2 separate regions of the Homo sapiens genome follow, and region 1 is linked to region 2. The links come from fine-mapping of genetic effects on gene expression. Tissue or cell type: anterior cingulate cortex. Region 2 holds a variant in brackets; the other region holds the start of a gene. All regions are shown on one strand. Distances are between the middles of the regions.

Region 1 (2,609 bases), 570 kb before region 2:
TCCTCAGAATAGGATAAAGGGAGGAAAGAGTGGGGCAGTGATGGAGCCAGGTGACCTTGGGATTATCTGGGTTATAAAGCATACCTTTGGTCAGCAGCAGGGGAGGGGACAGTCCTCCTTCCTGTATACCTTCTCCCTCTGCCCCCACCCAAGGCCTCCTTACCCTTTCCCTGCCTGAGGACTTTGAGCACGGTGGAGATAAAGCCCTGCAGCTAAGCACTAGCCCGACACTGAGAATGAGCTTACAGGGCACATCCAGAGAGAGCCTAGCACAGAAATTCCTCCCTGCTCCAAAATGGCCATCTTGATTTTTCTCTGAGCTCTGAGGGCTCCCAACCCCACGTCAAGAGCAGAGTAAGGAGTTCCAGGTTGCTTTATCCTCTCAAGGTTTCCGCCCGATTTCACCCACTCTGTTCGCCCCAGGAGAGTGGAGGAGGGCCCACTAATGAATATTCCATTCATTCCTCATGCCACTGGGCATGAGTTACCCCCGAGGTGAGGGGGCGGGGCTGAGGCTCTTCAGTAAAGCTCCCACCCCAACCCCAACCTCAGTCCTGGCTCCTGCCCATCTGGTTGGCCAGCCACCTTGCCCTGCGTGGTGGGTGACTTCTGGAGATTAGAGGCACTTGGCCGCCGGGGGCGAGAAGGCCACAGGGGCGAGACCACCACCCCCGACCTCCGGCTTCCCCTTCCTCGGGCCAATACCCTGGGGAGACCCGAGGGGCGGGTGGGGAGATGCCGGGGTCGGAGATTCGGTAACTCGAGCAGGGGCTGTCAGGGCAAACGGCTCCTTCAAAGATGAGACTTAAGGGGAAGGGAGAAGCCTGCCTTAAGGGATCCGAGAGGCCGCCCCGACTAGAGCAAAGGGCCCCGGCGTGGCGGGCAGGTGAACCCGACTCCGGGGAAACGACCCGCCCGCGACGTCCCCGCCCTCGGCCCGGCCTCACCTCGATGTTGCCCACAGTGCGGGCGCAGCCCACCACCTTCAGTCCCTGCTGGACCAGGGCCCGGGCCACGGCCGCGCCGATGCCCCCCGAGGCCCCCGTCACCAGCGCCAGCCGGTCGCGCCACCGCTCCATGCCGGGCCTGGCCATGGGCCCACGCCGCCCGTCCGCCTCGCTGGACTAGCCCGACACGGGGGTCGAGGAGCTGACGCCCGGCCGCTCTCCTGCCGCCGCCGCCGACCTGCTTGGGTCCGATCCGCGCCTAGACCCACCAGAGTCCCGGCCTGCCTCCGGCCGGGACTCCACCCTCAGGCCCCCGGCGATCCGCCGTATCCAGTCGGAGGCCGCCGCGGCCCGGCCGCCCCGCCCCTTCCGCCCCTCTGCCCCGCCCCGGCGTAGGGAAACCGGGCTGCGCGGGAGCGTCCTGGCAGCTGGCGGCGCCGCTTCCCCAGTGAGCGCTGCCCTTTGGGGTCAGGGAAACCGAGGTTTAGCGGGGAGGTTCCTTCAGCCCCAAGGGCGCATACTGAAGCGTCCCGCTTAGTCTCCCTTCTCTACTCCTGAACCCTAATGCCAGGATGAGGAATTAAGGGCACTTAAGGTGACTCCAACACTCTTCCACACCCTCCCAAACCCGCCGGTGGCTGATGGGAAGGGATTCGGCCCAGAAAACGCCGAGTGTCTCCGCCATCAATGCTAGGTGACCTTGGGAAGGACTCATTCACCCTACCTGATCCCTTGGCTTTACTAGCCACGGAGAACTGAAATACTCCTAAGTACACGTGTACTGGGGTATTCTGTCCCTAAATGGCCCACTGTGTCTAACTGCCCTAGACCCCCACGCTTACCCCTACCCCACTGTAGCAAATGTATCATGATATATGCCAAAGATTAAAACAGTATCTAACATTTGCTGCTTATGGTGTAGCAGGCATTTTAAATATAGTAACTAATCTACACAACCGCGCTGAGATGGCACATATTAGTATCTTAATTTTAAAGATGAGTATACTGACGTGGTGAAGCATGGTTTGGACCACAGGCAGTCCAGTCTTACGCCAGGGATGTGCTCCTCAACTGTCTTCACATCATTATCGCTTCTCGGGTTGCTGGTTTTGTTCAGAGTAGAGCTCGCTTTACTAAAAGTGCTGAAAACTGCGTACTTAATATAGCCATTCTCTTAAAGAAAAAGCATCTTTGAATAACCACCTGACTCCCTTCCAGCAAGCAATGGAGTAAGCGGTGAATGTGGCTGGTTTATTCATTCAAAAACACTCATTTGCCTATCCTGTGTTTGGCCCCAATGGCAAAGATTAAAACTAAACTAAATCAGCCTTTCCTTTTAGGGATCTCAAAAGAACATTTGACTCTTAACAGTGGTGAAGAGGGGATTCACCTCTGAGCCAAGGGCTGTGGGAGACCCACAGTCATTTTTTAGATTCTGGGATGAAATCAAAAAGGGTCCAAGAGGAGTCCTTTTACCTCTGCCCCATTCCTATACAACATTTAGATTTGAAAGACAACTCAGGAGGTGGATCCAAGAAATGGCACTATGAAAATTCAATCTAAGTTTCTGCTGCTGCCCACTTGAAATCTAACTCAAAATCTGATTAAAAGCACATAAAATTCACTCCACCTCCATTGCACAGAAGTACTGATTGTCCCATG
Region 2 (2,756 bases):
ATTACAGGTACCCGCCACCATGCCCAGCTAATTTTTGTATTTTTAGTAGAGACGGGGTTTCACCATGTCTATTGGGCTGGTCTGAAATTCCTGACCTCGTGATCCACCCTCCTTGGCCTCCCAAAGTGCTGGGATTACAGGCGTGGGCCACTGTGCCCGGCCTAGACCAATGTTATATGCCCTCAGTGTTTTCTCCCCCTGGCATCTCAACTCTGTTTTAGTTGGGTATGACAAGAATGACCCAATTGTATGGTCAACTTTTACACTGTGTAAAGAGTACACTACCCAGGATCTCTCTGTATTATTTCTTACAATTGCATGTGAATCTACAATTACCTCAAAATAAAAAAGTCCAATTTAAAAACATTAATGATCATGCTTATGTGTACATTATTTGTATACTATAGACACATCCAAAATGTGCCTCAATTTGATCATGTCCATGCCTTTGTCTTAAATAGTGAGGTCTAGTATTAGAGAGACCTTGGTTCAAATGCCAGCTTTGCCCTTTACTACCCATGTGGGCATATAGCAAATATTAGCAAATTACTCTATTGCTGTATGTCTCCATAGCCTCATCTGGAAAAAGAGCTAATGACTGTGCCTATTTCACAAGATTGTAGTTAAGATTTAATTATATAATAATTGTAAAACATAAAACAGTAAGTAGCCCATATCTCATTGCAACTATTTACTATCCTTATTGGCAGTTACAGCTGACTAGGATCTTCTTCCTCCCTTCCCTGCCTTTTGAAGCAGTATACAGTCTCTGTCCTATTTCTGAGACCTGCATCAAATGCTATCCCTTTCAGAAATGTTTCTCTTCATCCCAGTCCAAAGGGATGCATCTGGACCTCCCTTGAAATCTCCAATGGGCACAAAGGCTCCACAGCTCTGGATGGCAGAAACTTCCTCAATCCTCTATCTCTACCCTAACTAGAATAAAGCATCTTTACTAAGATTTATGTAGTCCTTCTCTAACAAGTACCTAGTTTAATTAAAAGCAACAAGCCTCAGCCGGGCACAGTGGCTCACACCTGTTATCCTAGCACTTTGGGAGGTGGAGGTGGGAGGATCACTTCAGCCCAGGAGTTCAAAACCAGCCGGGGGCAACATAGCAGGACCCCATTTCTAAAAAAAAAAATTTTTAAGTTAGCCAAGCATGGTGGTGCATGCCTGCAGTACGGGCCACTTGGGAGGCTAAGGTGGGAGGACCACTTGAGCCTGGGAGGTCAAGGCTGCAGTGAGCCGTGATTGTGCCACTGCACTCCACCCTGGTGAACAAAGGAAGAACCTGTTTCAAAAAAATTTTAAAAATAAAGCAACAAGCCTCCTCTTGAATAAGGAACTATTACTTTTGCGTTCAGCAAATTTATAAAAAAGATAAATCTATCCTTATGGCCCAAAAGGAGGATTATCAGTTAGCTTTTGCTACATCATAAATCACCACAAAATGTAGTGACTTAAAACAGCAAACAGCTATTCTCACAATTCTGTAGGTTGGAGGGGTAGTTCTCCCGGTCTGAGCCAGCTCAGCCAGGGTTTGAAGGCCTAGGATAACCTCTCAGCTGGGACAGCTGGGATGTCTGGGGACCTTTCTCTCCTTGTGGTCTCTCCTCCTTTGGTAGGCTAGCATAGGCTGGCACATGCG[G/A]TGGTATAAAAGTTCTCAGCAGTGAAATATTAATAATGCAAGTATCAATGCACCAGCACTTTTCCGGCCTCTGTTTTCATCACATTTTCTATTGTCTCATTGTCCAAAGACAGTCACATAGCAAAGACCAGATTCAGTAGGCGAAGGGACTTCCCAAGGGTAGGCACACTGGGTGGTAGGAATTACTGCACCCATTTTTGCAAACAGTCTATCAAAGGAAGGAATTAGTTAAATATTTAAACCAAGATCTAATTTCAGATAACCAGTGTGAGTTAGGAGAAACATTTGGCGCAAAACTGAAACCAATTCATTTGACTTGGTATCACCAAATACACATACAGTGGCTGGTATACAGGAATGGTCAGAAGATATTTAAGGGACTCCATCTCTGTGCAACCCTAGAGCAGTTTCAATTGCATGGCATAGCGCAGACTTTAGCTACAGGCCTCTTTAAGGAGACATTGTTTGGATTGGTTTTGTTTCTCTAAAAAGGACCTGGGCCCAGTCTTACACAAGAAACAAGAAGATGAGTTGGCAGGCTCTGTTATTCCCCTTATCACTTAAGAAGAAAGTTTTTCTCGTGTAATAGGCCATTTAAGATCATGCACAAGGATTCCCAGGCAAGATGCCTGAATAGGAACAGCTCTGGTCTGCAGCTCCCAGTGAGACCAACCCAGAAGGCAGGTGATTTCTGCATTTCCAACTGAGGTACCCAGTTCAGCTCATTGGGACTGGTTGGACGGTGGGTGTAGCCCATGGAGGGTGAGCAGGAGCAGGGTGGGGCATTGCCTCACCCTGGAAGCACAACACAGTCTTACAAGCCTACTCTGGACCAAGCGGCTGACCCCTTCTTCCAACCCCCTTCTCACTATCTCTTTTGCCTAATAAAGATGGAGGGCTATGTAAAGCTCAGGGCCCTTGTCCACTAGAGGCAAAGTGGCCCCTGACTAAATATATTCTTTTGTCTCTTGTCTTTTATTCCCACGTTCACCCCCTTTGTTCAGTCCCCCTAGGTCTGTATAAATTACACAAGGGGTCAGGGAACTCCCTCCCCTAGCCAAGGGAAGCCATGAGGGACTGTGCTGTGAGGGACAGTGCTATCCGG

Evidence for each region. PIP is the estimated chance that this variant, and not a neighbour inherited with it, causes the effect.
Region 1: it holds the start of DHRS11, and the variant in region 2 is fine-mapped to the expression of DHRS11 in anterior cingulate cortex (GTEx, PIP 0.99).

Annotation. Positions count from the first base shown.
Region 1 is chr17:36,590,495-36,593,103 of GRCh38, reverse strand. DHRS11 (dehydrogenase/reductase 11) reads right to left here and starts at 1,225. Exons shown (of 7, transcript NM_024308.4): 1 at 948-1,225. The coding sequence starts at 1,094.
Region 2 is chr17:36,023,732-36,026,487 of GRCh38, reverse strand. No RefSeq gene overlaps it. Among named protein-coding and RNA genes, the nearest start is that of CCL23, 7.1 kb to the right of the region's middle. The variant G/A (reference allele first, on the strand shown) is at 1,652.